Homo sapiens: one gene and its partners. The protein of the gene in region 2 purifies or fractionates together with the protein of the main gene of each other region. This does not show direct contact. Each region holds a gene or a part of one and is shown on either strand. Other genes may lie near its edges.

Region 1 (3,500 bases), on a different chromosome or scaffold from region 2:
AGCAATTCTTTTGCTTCAGCCTCTTGAGTAGCTGGGATTACAGGCGCCTGCCACCATGCCCAGCTAATTTTTGTATTTTTTAGTAGAGATGAAGTTTCGCCACGTTGATCAGGCTGGTCTCAAACTCTTGACCTCAAGTGATCTGGCTGCCTCGGCCTCCCAAAGTGCTGGGATTACAGGCATGAGCCACTGTGTCTGGCCTCTCTCCACAGTTTGGTTTCCCCATCTATCAAATGAGAATCATAATTTCTACTTCCCTACCACATCGGGTTTTGGAGAGGCTAAAATGAGGTCAGGAAGGAGAAACTGCTTAGAGAACGTCCAACACTTTTAAAACGAGAGGGATTTGTTTTGTGGCTAAGCTGTGTCCAGGGCTGCAGGTCAAGCCTCCATGTTTTTGTCTAGTGGGGCAGTAACACCAGGCTCAGTAGCATCAACTGTACACTGTGTTCCCTTCAGGGTGTGGTGGAGGCTCTGAGGACTGTTCACACCCAGACACGTCACACTGTGCTTTCCATCACCTCTTGGCCATCTCACTTATTTATCCCTTTTCTTTCTTAATTTTTTTTTTTTTTTTTTTTTCAGACAGGGTCTTGCTCTGTCGCCCAGGCTGGAGTGCAGTGGCGTGATCATGGCTCACTGCAGCCTCTCGAACTTCTGGGCTCAGTTGATTCTCCCACCTCAGCCTCCTGAGTAGCTGGGATTACAGGCAGATGCCACCATGCATGGCTAAATTTTTTTTTGTAGAGATGGGGTTTCACCATGTTGCCCAGGCTGGTCTTGAACTCCCGGGATCAAGTGATCCATCTGCCTTGGACTCCCAAAGTGTTGGGATTACAGGCGTGAGCCACCACACCCGGCCTCTTTATCCTTCTCACATAGCACTTGCCTCTCCTTTGGGGGAGAGCTGAGGATAGCGGGTGAGCTAGGTTCAGGTCTCACTCATGGCTCATGGCTCATGGCTTGAGCGTCTCCTTGCAGACATTGTGTCCTGTGTGATTCATCCCTGGAGGAAACTCTGGAAACTCTGCCTAGCTGCTCCTCCTTTATAATTTAATTATTTTTGGTCATTGGTCATTTTATAAAAAAAGGTCAAGAAACAGGATTTTGTCACTCCTCTTCTTTTTATTACAGCCTGACTTTTTCTGAAATATTGCTTAGAGCCCTTCCTGGTTGTGACTTGCTCTCCCGCTGGTGCCTGCCAGATTGCAAGTTTCTTGTCTGTGGCAGACACAGTTGCTAGACCCTGTGGTTCTTGGAAGTGTCGACACCTTTGTTCACAGTTTGGTGACGCATAGGCTGCTCTGGAGTTGTTTGACCTTTAGGCCCAGAGAGGAAATCTCTGCCTCTGGCTGGTTGTCCAGTTCTCGTCTTGAACCAGAAGGCACTTGGGTGCCACTTGGGTGGGGCGGGCAGAGAACTGGACTGGGGCTGGGGTGGGCACAGGGGAGGCGTTCCCATCCCAGCTCTGTTTGACTCTCTCTGTGTGACCTGTGGCTGAATTACTTCTTTACAGGCATGGTTTTCCCTACCTATAAATCGAGGGTCATACTATATCCGTGGTTTAGTGGTTTATATCCTATTTTGCTTCCCTTTAAAAATAATTTAGCCCCTATACTCTTTATTTAAAGCAGAGATCTTTATTTAAAGTCTATGAATGGCTTTGTTTATTATTATTATTATTTTGAGACAGGGTCTCGCTCTGTCACCCAGGCTGGAGTGCAGTGGTGCAATCTCAGCTCACTGCAGCCCACGCCTCTTGGGTTCAAACGATTCTCGTGCCTCAGTCTCCCAGATAGCCAGAATTACAGGCGTGCACCACCACGCTTGCCTAATTTTTGTATTTTTAGTAGAAATAGGGTTTCACCATGTTGGCCAGGCTGGTCTCGAACTCCTGGCCTCAAGTGATCTGCCTGCCTTGGCCACCCAGAGTGCTGGGATTATAGGCGTGAGCCAAAAGTCTATGAATGGCTTTGAACGGGGCTTACTCTTGTCATTGTGCCACAAGCCCCACCACTTTCTGTGGCTTAAACCCTGCCTGCATCACAATAAGTTACCTGCCTGGGCTTTGAAGGCGTAGTGTAAAATAAATAAAAATAGGTAAAGCTCTCTAGCTAAAGCGAGTGTGTGTGGAGCACAGCCTGCTCCCTGCCCCCTCATGATGAGCAGGAACCCAAGGTTATGCAGAGCAGTGTTTGACAGCATCTGGGCTGGGTGGCTGCTCAGGGCCCTCCAGTTATGACATTTATCTTTCTCTGGCTCAGACTCTAGCAGGATACCCAGGAGAAAGAGGGAAGTGCTGGCTAAGGTCCCAGGCTTTGGGCGTGTATCAGAACTATCCCTATCCCCCTGCTCCTGTCCGGGATCATAATTTGTCGATTGTTCAGCCTTTCAGACCCCCACTGGCATGCCATATGGAACAGTGAACTTACTTCATGGCGTGAACCCAGGAGAGACCCCTGTCACCTGTACGGCAGGGATTGGGACCTTCATTGTTGAATTTGCCACCCTGAGCAGCCTCACTGGTGACCCGGTGTTCGAAGATGTGGCCAGAGTGGCTTTGATGCGCCTCTGGGAGAGCCGGTCAGATATCGGGCTGGTAGGTTCGCTGCTGCCCTTCCTGTTTGAGTCCCTGCTTACGAGGCCCAGGGCTCTGAGCAATAAGTTGCAGTCAAGCCAAGGAAAACTTAGGGTGACCTTGGGAGTGGTCCAGGATTTGGGCTCAGGACACCAAAAATAGACCAAGCCTCCAATTCAAGTTTGGCTTGGAGTGGGGAGGAGAGTGGGAAAGCACGTTTCTGGCAGGCAGCAGGGGCTGCATTCAGCTTTGACCAGTTGAGATTCTCTGATTTCTAGGAAGAGGGTCGTATGTTTCATGCCCCTGACTCACTTGACGGCTTCAGATCATCAGCTCGTCCGGCCTTCATTTTTAGCGTCTATCTGTATTTGCTGTGTTTCTTAGGACACCGGTTCTGAGAGATACTGAGTGGCAGTTGCATGAAAAAATGAGTCTTGGCCAATTAAGTTAGGGGAATATTAGATATAATATCCCCCCCTTTTTTGGAGAGTCAGAATGCACATGAGCAGAATAAAAATCCTCTAGTAAAGAAATCTATTCAACTTTGTTTAATTTAACATTTCCCAAACTTATTTAACACCAGAGCTTCCCTTTATCTTCCAGTACTATTAACCCATGGAAATTGAACACACTTTGGACCAGATGATCTCTAAGGTCAGTTTCAGCTTCTAAATGGGATAATCAATAAGATTAACAGTAATTGAGCCAAAGCCATCCAGGACATAACACTGGATTTAGTCAGAACTGGATTCAAGCCCTGGCCTTGCTACATCGAAACTGTGTGACCCTGAGCAAGTCACTCAACCTCTCTGGTCCTCAGTTACTTCAGCAGTAACGTTAATATATTAATACCAACTTTGCTGAGTCACTCTGACTTAGGAAGACTGCATTTAGGTCTAGGCACATTTTATGCAGTCTGGTG
Region 2 (3,500 bases):
CAGCTACTCTTGATACCTGGGTCTCAAGTCATGTCTTCCTAATTAGTAGCCAGGTATCTGAGGCCACCATGGGTGTTATATCATTTTGGTCTTCACCCAAGTTCTGTTCTCTTCACTAATCAAGAAGATTGACTGCCCTCTCCAGGGTAGTCATTTGTAGCTCCACTTATCCCTCTTTTTAAGCATTTTCCCTGTCCCTGGTGGCTGGGTGCCTGTGTCCTGCTTATGATACCAGGAACAGATGACTCTTCTGTTCTTCCTGCTTCCTTGGGTGGAAACTGCAAAGGATGCCTTCCAAAATCAGCTTATTATTTTTGTGGACCCAAGATCTGTAGACAGCTAGCCAGTGCCCATCTCATGGAGAGAGGGTATTCTAAGCCAGATATGATCCAATCCCATGACTTGATCTGTACCCTGCAGGGCATGGCCTTTCTCCACAACAGCATTATTTCATCGCATGGGAGTCTCAAGTCCTCCAACTGTGTGGTGGATAGTCGTTTTGTGCTCAAAATCACAGACTATGGCCTGGCCAGCTTCCGATCAACTGCTGAACCTGATGACAGCCATGCCCTCTATGCCAGTGAGGCCCACCCCCACAACCCACTTTTTATATTGCTCCTCTTTCCACCTAGGGATGGTGGGAGAGGGAGGTGGAGTGACAGTAATATAGGGATGAGCCCAGGTGGGCTTGGGGGTGCCCCATTTCGGGGGACCTGGCCAGCCGGTTTCCTCTTTTCAGAGAAGCTGTGGACTGCCCCAGAACTGCTCAGTGGGAACCCCTTGCCAACCACAGGCATGCAGAAGGCTGACGTCTATAGCTTTGGGATCATCCTGCAGGAGATAGCACTTCGCAGTGGTCCTTTCTACTTGGAGGGCCTGGACCTCAGCCCCAAAGGTAAGAGTCAATCCACTACCCACAGCCTCTTCTTCCTGGGGGAACTCTGTTCTTCATCCAAACCTTTGATCACCCTCAGAGATTGTCCAGAAGGTACGAAATGGTCAGCGGCCATATTTCCGGCCAAGCATTGACCGGACCCAACTGAATGAAGAGCTAGTTTTGCTGATGGAGCGATGTTGGGCTCAGGACCCAGCTGAGCGGCCAGACTTTGGACAGATTAAGGGCTTCATTCGGCGCTTTAACAAGTGAGAGGGCATTATGGGGCAGGGGCTTCCCAGGGATAGAAGACTCATTAGTCCTAGTGCATGAAGTGGGGCAGGTGGGACCAGAGGGTGGGTTGGATAGGAAGTCCTGGGAATCTTCAGAATCTTAGAGCAAGTGCCTTATCCTGGCCTCCCTCTAGGGAGGGTGGCACCAGCATATTGGACAACCTCCTGCTGCGCATGGAACAGTATGCCAATAACTTGGAGAAGCTGGTGGAGGAACGCACACAGGCCTATCTGGAGGAAAAACGCAAGGCTGAAGCTCTGCTCTACCAAATCCTACCCCAGTGAGACTTTGTCCCCCTTCCTGTATTTTCTTTTGGGATTCTGCTCTGTTGGGCTCTGCCTCATCAGGCACCTGAGAACTCGCCTCCCCACCCTCAGAACCCTGCTGGCCACAGGGAGCACCCCTGCTTATAGATTATTTGCTGTCATTCTGTCTCCACATCAGCTATGCTGCCTTCTTACTGGCTGCCCATCCCTTCTTCTTAAGACCCTGCTCTACCACACCCTTGCTTCAGCAAGTGTATGTAAAACAGTCCCAACTTGAGACAGCTCCCATGCACAGGGATTCCCCTCAAACCCCCCCGCCACTTGTGTGCCTTACCTTGCATTAGACTGTAATGTCTTCCCAGCCACTTTCCTCCCTCCCACCTGAAAAGCCTAGCTTTCTTGTTACAGCTCATCTCTGCTGCAGCCACATACACTTTCCCTCTCTCTTCCACTCCTGCTCTCTTGGAGTTTGGCTCATACGGCACCCTTGCTTCCTAGTTCAGTGGCAGAGCAGTTAAAACGGGGAGAGACTGTACAGGCTGAGGCCTTTGACAGTGTTACCATCTACTTCAGTGACATTGTTGGCTTCACAGCATTGTCAGCAGAGAGCACCCCCATGCAGGTGAGAGCCATGGGTGAGAGGTGGCGGGTGGGGTTGGGTGGGTAGGGACCTGGGGAAGCCTCATTGATAATAGGAAAGATGAGTTTGTTCTAGAGTTCCCACATCTTTTGATGGCTTGTGGGTTAAGAATTCTTAGAAAATTGGGCACAAGTCTCAGGGCCTCTGCTTTTCTATCCCTTTTAGGTAGTGACACTTCTTAATGACCTGTATACCTGCTTTGATGCCATAATTGACAACTTTGATGTCTACAAGGTGAGAGCTGGGGCCGCTGTTCAATAGAAGACCCTTTAATAGAGACCCGCTTTGAAACTCAGTCTCCCTGAACCCCACACACCTTACCCACCCCATGATCAGTTTTCCCTCCAGGGTACTCAGCATCCTGGTGCTGGAGTGTACTTCGTAGACAGATGTAGCTCCAGCACTATAATTGTACACTCCAGTCGAATTTCTTGTGAATCCTTTGACTTCCCTAATCAGAACCATCATGAGATTTAGCTCCTATCTTCCTGGAGTATAAATACAGCCTATCCAACATTTCTCTCCAGTCCTCTCCAGACATGGAAGAATCATATAGGATGTGGGTCCAGACTGATTTAGTGGGGTGAGGGAAAATATATTTTAAAAAGTAAAACTTTTTGTTGAAGTTATTGAGTTGGATTTATTGTCCTTGGGAGTAAAAATCATCTGGATTTGAATATTGGCTTGTTGCTAACTGTGTGGCCTTAGGTAAGTCACAGAATCTCCCTGAGCCTCAGTTGTTTTATCTGTAAGATGGGAATAATAGATTCGTTGTATGGAAAGTACCTAACATTGTTTGGCATGTGGCAGACTACTATTTAGGGATAACTACTTTATCCCTAAATACTTAGTGTGTATTTCCTAAAAACTTCACTGTGTATTTCCTTAAAACAATGGCATTTATTCTCTTACATAGCTTTGGCACAATTACCAAAATCAAATGCCTGCTTTCCTCCTCTCTGACAGTTTGGGCTGTCAGGTCCATTTCACTGGGCCTGCTTTACCTCCTCACCAGCCTCTGTCCTCTTGAGTTACCGTTTTCTTGCTTCCCATTTCCTGATGGCAGAGCCTATTTGTCCATGTCCTGCTGCAGACAGGGTGTTCATTCATTCCGCAAATGTTTACTGAGTATTCACCAGGTGCTGGGTGGAGAAAGAAGACTTAAAGATTCCCTAGACATCTCCTCTCCCCTAGACTCAGGACCATGGCACTTATTTTCTAGTCAATATTCTGGTCTCCAGCATGTCAGGATGATTAATGATGGTGTCAAGCTTGTCTCCCTCTACTTTTTCCCATCCCCATGGATATAAATAGAGGTGACCTTTTAATCCCCCTCTCAATCAGGTGGAGACGATTGGGGATGCTTACATGGTGGTATCTGGCCTCCCAGGCCGAAATGGTCAACGCCATGCACCAGAAATTGCTC
Region 3 (3,500 bases), on a different chromosome or scaffold from region 2:
GGGTTCAAGTGATGCTCATGCCTCAGCTTCCCAAGTAGCTGGGGTGACAGGCATGTACCACCACGCCCGGCTAATTTTTTGTATTTTTAGTAAAGACAGGGTCTCACTCTGTTGCTCAGGCTGGTCTCGAACTCTTGGCCTCAACCAGTCCTCCTGCCTTGGTCTCCTAAAGTGCAGGGATCACAGGCATGAGCCACCACACCCGGCTTCGAGTTTTTGAGCTAGGGAGGGGCAGAGGGAGCGAGAGGAAGACAGTGGTGCTGGCAGGCGAGTCTGCGCCTTACAGGTCGAGGCAGTCGTGGGGAAGGGCCTGGCAGGATTGACCTGGCCGCCTCCCAGCAAAGGCAAAGGAGCCCTGGAAGGAACCACAGAGCCCAGGAAGCACTGTGCCAGGATGGGGCAGGGGTGAGAGTAGAGAAGGCACAGTGGCTCCTGCCGGCTTTAATCCTTGACCACAAGGGGGAGAAATGCCAGGGCCATCCCCACAGACGCAGCAGCGTGGTCCCCGAGTCAGGTCTGGAGAGGAGGCCTTGAGGCCCAGACAGGGCTAGGGCAGAGAAGGCTGTGTGCATGCGGAGACTGCTGGGCCCCTGGAGGCCAGCACAGAGGAGAGGTGAGGCCAAGCCAGGCAGGACATGGGGACGCCTGCATCAGCCTGGGACAGTCCACCTCAAGGGTCAGAAAAAAAGGGCTGGGCAGGTGGCAGAACTTCCAGGTTTAGGTTTAGAGAAGAGAGACCTGAATGCCGTAGACAGAGCTGGACTCCATCCTTGGGTGATAAGGGATCCCCGAAGTTTCCAAAGGAGATGGGTGGGGAGGGGTTCCATGCAGCATTTTGCAAAGAGTCCCCTGCAGGGTCAGCCAGGGTCACAAGCAGAGGCGGGAGGAGCCAAGGGGTTTGGCTCAGCAGGGGGACCCTGGGGGCCGATAGCAGCCGTGCACCATTCCCTCCTGAGACTCTGTGCTTAGGGGCTGGTCCTGATGAAGGATGAGCAGGGCCCTGGGCTGCAGGGTGGCAGTGAGGAACAAGGAAAGGCCAGGCGAGGGCTGCTGCCCGCTGACTCCACCACCTCTCCAGGGAGGAGCGGGGCCGTGGGCTGGGCCATCCCGCCTGGTCCAGGTCACTGAACGGCCACTCTGGTTTCCTTCCATGCCCAGGGAGCCCTCGTGTGGGCAAGATTGTTATGACTGCTGCCGCCAAGCACCTGACACCTGTCACCCTGGAGCTGGGGGGCAAGAACCCTTGCTACGTGGACGACAACTGCGACCCCCAGACCGTGGCCAACCGCGTGGCCTGGTTCCGCTACTTCAACGCCGGCCAGACCTGCGTGGCCCCCGACTACGTCCTATGCAGCCCTGAGATGCAGGAGAGGCTGCTGCCTGCCCTGCAGAGCACCATCACCCGTTTCTATGGCGACGACCCCCAGAGCTCCCCAAACCTGGGCCGCATCATCAACCAGAAACAGTTCCAGCGGCTGCGGGCATTGCTGGGCTGCGGCCGTGTGGCCATTGGGGGCCAGAGCGATGAGAGCGATCGCTACATCGGTGAGTCCTGCTGCCCCTACCACAGCCCACCTGGGCCAAGACCCCTCCTCACTGGAGGGCCCAAGGCTGGGCCACAACTCTGGACCCGCGCCTGAAACCTGGCCCCACTGCCAGAGCCCGGCCTTGAGCCACAGCTCCAGTGCCATGATTCCGTCTCTGTGCTTCTAAGTCTGTGGCCCTATGAGGCCAAACTCTGGTCCCTCACCTTGGATTCGCTGAGCTCAGATCCCAGGGCTCCAGGGCTCAGCGTGCTAAGATGAACTCCCATCCCACCACTGGCTATCCTGAAAGGCTGTAACCTCAGATTCTCCGAGCCCACAATCCCCAGGTTCTAAACTCCGAGAGTCCCGTCCTGAGCCCCCAGTCTCCTGGGCCGTACGGCTCAGCAGCTCATGGGACACTGCGGCGCCAACATTCTGGGACGCTGTTGCCTCATGAACTCCAAGGGTTCTAAGATCCCATCACCCCTGACTGTGAGACCAAGGTCGGGGGATTCTCTGTGTCCCACAGGCCCTGAGCAGGCTGGGGAAGCTCTAGAGTCCCTTCTGGGGGGCTGTGGGGAGACTTTCTTCCCTAAACACTCCAAAGCCTGAAGCCTTGGGAAGTCAGACCTTGGGATCCTGGCCTAGAGCCCTGGCCTGTGGCCCTGTCCCCACCTCTACCCCCACCCTGGGGGCGGTCCTGACTGTGGCCCCAGGGCTGAGCTGTCTCTGGTGCCTGCAGCCCCCACGGTGCTGGTGGATGTGCAGGAGATGGAGCCTGTGATGCAGGAGGAGATCTTCGGGCCCATCCTGCCCATCGTGAACGTGCAGAGCTTGGACGAGGCCATCGAGTTCATCAACCGGCGGGAGAAGCCCCTGGCCCTGTACGCCTTCTCCAACAGCAGCCAGGTGGGGGTGCGGCCGGGCTGGGCAGGGTCAGGAGCCCGCAGTGGGCAGCACAAGTGGTGGCAGCAGGGGGGGCACCAAAATCCAGTGGCTTCAGGACTTTGGGATGGTGGACCTCTTGGCTCTGTCTCTGCCCACTCTCCTGGAAGCAGCTGAGCCTCACCCACCCCAACCCTGTCCCCAGTCTGGGCCCCACTCTCCTAGGCCTTCAGTGGGCAGCTTCCTGGGGTATGGGCCTTCTCTAGGGTCCAGTGTTTCCTCTAGGTCAGCCCCTGCCTTTGTCCTTCTTACACATCGGGGCCTGGTGGCCACATGACCCCTCAAGCCTGGCTCTGAAGGCACAGGCAACGTGTCGGGGATGACCCAAAGGTGCAGGTCCAAGAATGAGCCCTGATCCCCTACCCCTGCTTAAGCTGCAGAGGCAGCCTGGGAGGCCCAAGGCCAGAGTCCTCAGATTAAAAAACACCAAGAGGTACCAGCAGTCCCTACCCACCCCGCCCCCTTCCCCGGCCCTCAGCCAGTTCCTCGATTCCCTCCACTTGAACTTTTTTTTTTTTTTTTTTGAGACAGAGTCTCACTCTGTCACCCAGGCTGGAGTGCAGTAGCACAGTCTTGGCTCACTGCAACCTCTGCCTCCCGGGTTCAAGCGATTCTCCTGCCTCAACCTCCTGTGTAGCTGGGATTACAGGCGTGTGCCACTATGCCCGGCTAATTCTTTGTATTTTTAGTAGAGATGGGGTTTTGCCACATTGGTCAGGCTAGTCTTGAACTGCTGACCTCAGGTGATCCACCTGCCTCGGCCTCCCAAAGTGCTGGGATTACAGGGATGAGCCACCGTGCCCGGCCACTTGAACTTTTTTTAAATAAACTTTGTATTGGGAAATACTTTTAGATTTACAGAAAAGTTGCCAAAATGGTACAGAGAGTTCCCATGTACCCCACACCTAATTTCCCCCATTTAATGGTGCTTAGATGGGTCAAAACTAAAAAAGTGATGGCAGGGCTGGGCGCGGTGGCTCACACCTGTAATCTCAGCACTTTGGGAGGCCAAGGTGGGAGGATTGCTTG
Region 4 (3,500 bases), on a different chromosome or scaffold from region 2:
ATTAGAGCTTAAATATTAAATGTGTTTAAATGCAAAGCTTTATTCTAATTAAATTATGTATATGTAGCACTTTTTCCAAAGTGAAGAAATCAGATTAACAATTTACTCTGCATAATTCATACTTTCATCCTACATATACTATTGCCTAGAGGTTAACAATGTGTATTCAGCACTCTGAAAAACTAATGTGTCTAACCTTAAGTGCCAAAGAAATAGAAATTGTATACTTTGCCTTTTAATATAGTAGAAATGAGGCATAAAAAAAGACATAAGGGCCAGGCGCAGTGGCTCACGCCTGTAATCCCAGCACTTTGGGAGGCCGAGGCGGGCAGATCACGAGGTCAGGAGATCAAAACCATCCTGGCTAAGACAGTGAAACCCCGTCTCTACTAAAAATACAAAAAAAAAAAAAAAAAAAATTAGCCGGGTGTGGTGGCAGGCGCCTGTAGTCCCAGCTACTCGGGAGGCTGAGGCAGGAGAATGGCGTGAACCCGGCAGGTGGAGCTTGCAGTGAGCCAAGATCGCGCCACAGCACTGCAGCCTGGGTGACAGAGCAAGACTCCGTCTCAAAAAAAAAAAAAGATGTAAGGACAAATACCAAACACCACATGTACTGAGGTACAACTAACATGAAACAATTAAATCTCAACTATCTAGGCATGGACTGTGAAGAAACATTGTACAGATAAATAACAGTTCCCTACACTGTACTTTATCAACTGCCTGCATAGCAAAAGCAAATTCTAAAATTATACACCAATGCTATATTTAAGTCTTCGGTTTAGAATTGAATCATGTTGATTGACATTTTTCAAATCTGTGTATTAGGAAGGTGTTCTCCTAAGGACAGCTTTCACACTGCAAATGGTGGACTGACTCCCAGAGGTGGAGGAAAGCGTGCCCTCAACCCAGCCCAGTCCCCCTTCCCTCTGCCCTTCTAAGTACCCCCAGGGAGATAATCAAAAAGCAGCAATAATGTGAAGCATGGGAGGGTTACAGCCTTCAGAGAAGGCAGGTGGCGGCAGAGTTGGGGAGAGGCAGGCTGTGGGTAAAATCTGAGAATCCTCATGATCCAACAGCATTTCCAAACATTTCCTTAATAATGCGGCATCTATGTTTTTCATGGCAATATGCTTTAAGTAGCTCTGCTTATTCACATTTCCCTTTGAACAAAATTTAGCTTCCTCAAGTTATTTCCACTAATTTCCCCCAACCTCATCTTCTGCCCTATGACCCATCCCCAGGGGATTTTCTCACCCTGAGCCTCTTACAAGAAACATCAGAGATCCCCATCTCATCCCAGAAATATCCAAACTCTCCTGAAGTTTTATTCACATGTAAGTTTCATGGGCATAGGCACTACAGTAAGATGGGAAAAGTGGAGCCCGTTGTCTTCCCAAAAGCATCCTTTTCTGGGAAGAAGTCAGAATAAAGCTTTATACAGAGCAAAGCTCCAATGAGGCTAGATGGTTAAGAAAGTCAAAAGAAGCCTTCCAAACGAGTTTCCACCACCGCCAAGCTACCACACTCTGTCCTGTCTAGACACTGAGCTACTTAGAGACTACTATTGTAAAGGGGTAGAACAATTGCCCAGGGGAATTGCAAATGGAATGCGTCAGAATAAAGTAACCCCCCTTAACCTAACCTTTAATGAATGGAATGGAACAAGAGAGCTGAAAGTTGACATGATTTTTTTCCTTCCCAATCTAGGGTAGGACTAGGTTAACTACTCCATCCGACTCACCCTCCTCTCCACCTCCTGAGAATAAATGGTGAACTTTCCACTTCGTGGTTATATGAAAAACAAGGGTTAATACTTCACTTGAAAGAGAGGTTCATGACACTTTCCTCACACCACTTTTTGTTCCTAAGGCAGTAGGGCCAATTCTGTGATATGAATTCCTGGCAAAGAGCCAACAGTGATGTTCCCACACTTGTCTCTACTATCTTACTCCAAGCCTTTGCAAACTCTAGCTGTTTCTCATCCTAATGACCTGGCTTCTTGCTGACCCATCCATGCATGGGTCTGGTATCTGCAAGGTGGCACACGAAAAAGCATGAATTTGGCCACCACTGATAGCTCAAATTAAGAGGCTATTCCTTTAGTCTTTTCTCAACACAGCGGCCAGAGTGGTCCTGCTAAAATGTGATTGTCCACTCATTGACTCATCAGCTTTTGCTTCTGATGCTTTAAGAACACCCTGTCTCACCCAGCCACACTCTTCATAAATGACCCATTCCTCTCCTTCCCTTTATAGTGAGACACTTGAGAGATTTGTCTGTACATGCTGTCCCCAATTCCTCTCCTCTCATTTTTTCTTGAACCAATTCCATCAACCTTTTACCCCCAGCATTCCACTAAAACTGCTTTTCAAATCATTGCCAGTAACTTCTACATTATAAATCCAATGGTCAAATCTCAGTCTTCAATTAACTTGACCTAATAGCAGCATTTGACACAGACTGTCTTTGCAACCCTTTTTTCAGTTGGCGTCCAAAAAACCACAATTGTCCAGTTTTCTTCCTACTTTCTGTACATTCCTCTCAGGCACCTATGCTGCTATGCAACCCTCCAACTTCTAAACACAAGCGTGCCCAGGGCTCAGCATTGGACTCTTCAGTTTTCTGTCTACACTCACTTATCCAGCCTCTTGGCTTTGAACGCATACCGTTTACATGCTGATGACTCTCAAGTCTACGGCTTCCCCCGACACCTCTCCTCCCTTGTCCTCCTGGATATGTGATAGATGTCTCAATTTAACAGGTCCAAAACAGAGCTCCTGGGGTTCCTCTCTGAAACCTCCTTCTCCCATACTCTTCCCCCTCTCAGTTAAAGGCAATTCCATCCTGCCAGTTACTCAGGTCATAAATCTTCAAATCATTCTTGACTCTTCTTTCTCTTACACATACCGCCAATCCATTGACAAATCTTGCCAGATCCATCTTTTAAAAATATCCAGAATGTATGCATTTCTCACCACTTCACTCTCCCTACCTGGCTCCAAGCCACCATCATCAGCTGCCTGGACTATGGCAAAAGCCTCCTGAATGGTCTCTGCTTCTAATCTCATGCCTTTCACTCCGCAGTTGCAGAGTGATCTGTTGAAACCTAAGCCAGATGGCACTCCTCTGCTCCAGACCCTCCAGTGACTTCTCAGAGTAAAAGGCCAAACAAAGTCCTTAGCATGACCTCTAAGGCCCCCCCATGTCCTTGTCCCCACAGCCTCTTTGACTTCGTTTCCTGCTGTTCTGCCTCTTATCACTCCCCTGGTACCACGCTGGCCTCCTTGCATGATCCAGTTCACTCCCGCCAAGGATCCTTTTCTGGGATGTTCTTCCCCCAGATATATTATAGCTCAATCTCTCACTTCCTTCAGGTCTTTTATCAAATCTCTCCTTCTCAGTAAGGCTTTCGATGGCAATTCTATACTGTCGCCTCCACACTCCACATCCCTTTACCCCCACTCTATTTATCCTTTTATATTGCCATCTGACATTAT

The links.
Region 1: the proteins of NPR2 (region 2) and EDEM2 purify together in Homo sapiens (co-immunoprecipitation; one large-scale study listed by IntAct). This does not show direct contact.
Region 3: the proteins of NPR2 (region 2) and ALDH3B1 purify together in Homo sapiens (co-immunoprecipitation; one large-scale study listed by IntAct). This does not show direct contact.
Region 4: the proteins of NPR2 (region 2) and MRAP2 purify together in Homo sapiens (co-immunoprecipitation; one large-scale study listed by IntAct). This does not show direct contact.

Annotation. Positions count from the first base shown.
Region 1 is NC_000020.11:35,133,837-35,137,336, reverse strand, and holds part of EDEM2 (ER degradation-enhancing alpha-mannosidase-like protein 2 isoform 1 precursor), read left to right. Parts: intron 1-2,387; coding exon 2,388-2,599; intron 2,600-3,500. Other genes in the region: MMP24-AS1-EDEM2 (ER degradation-enhancing alpha-mannosidase-like protein 2), read left to right, coding at 2,388-2,599. UniProt on the Homo sapiens protein: Involved in the endoplasmic reticulum-associated degradation (ERAD) pathway that targets misfolded glycoproteins for degradation in an N-glycan-dependent manner.
Region 2 is NC_000009.12:35,805,091-35,808,590, forward strand, and holds part of NPR2 (atrial natriuretic peptide receptor 2 isoform 1 precursor), read left to right. Parts: intron 1-420; coding exon 421-580; intron 581-739; coding exon 740-895; intron 896-974; coding exon 975-1,143; intron 1,144-1,301; coding exon 1,302-1,448; intron 1,449-1,932; coding exon 1,933-2,056; intron 2,057-2,239; coding exon 2,240-2,308; intron 2,309-2,694; exon of another isoform or gene 2,695-3,082; coding exon of another isoform or gene 3,083-3,216; intron 3,217-3,418; coding exon 3,419-3,500. Other genes in the region: SPAG8 (sperm-associated antigen 8), read right to left, coding at 3,083-3,216. UniProt on the Homo sapiens protein: Receptor for the C-type natriuretic peptide NPPC/CNP hormone. Has guanylate cyclase activity upon binding of its ligand. May play a role in the regulation of skeletal growth.
Region 3 is NC_000011.10:68,020,327-68,023,826, forward strand, and holds part of ALDH3B1 (aldehyde dehydrogenase family 3 member B1), read left to right. Parts: intron 1-1,158; coding exon 1,159-1,545; intron 1,546-2,268; coding exon 2,269-2,435; intron 2,436-3,500. UniProt on the Homo sapiens protein: Oxidizes medium and long chain saturated and unsaturated fatty aldehydes generated in the plasma membrane into non-toxic fatty acids. May have a protective role against the cytotoxicity induced by lipid peroxidation.
Region 4 is NC_000006.12:84,057,772-84,061,271, reverse strand, and holds part of MRAP2 (melanocortin-2 receptor accessory protein 2), read right to left. Parts: intron 1-3,500. UniProt on the Homo sapiens protein: Modulator of melanocortin receptor 4 (MC4R), a receptor involved in energy homeostasis. Plays a central role in the control of energy homeostasis and body weight regulation by increasing ligand-sensitivity of MC4R and MC4R-mediated generation of cAMP.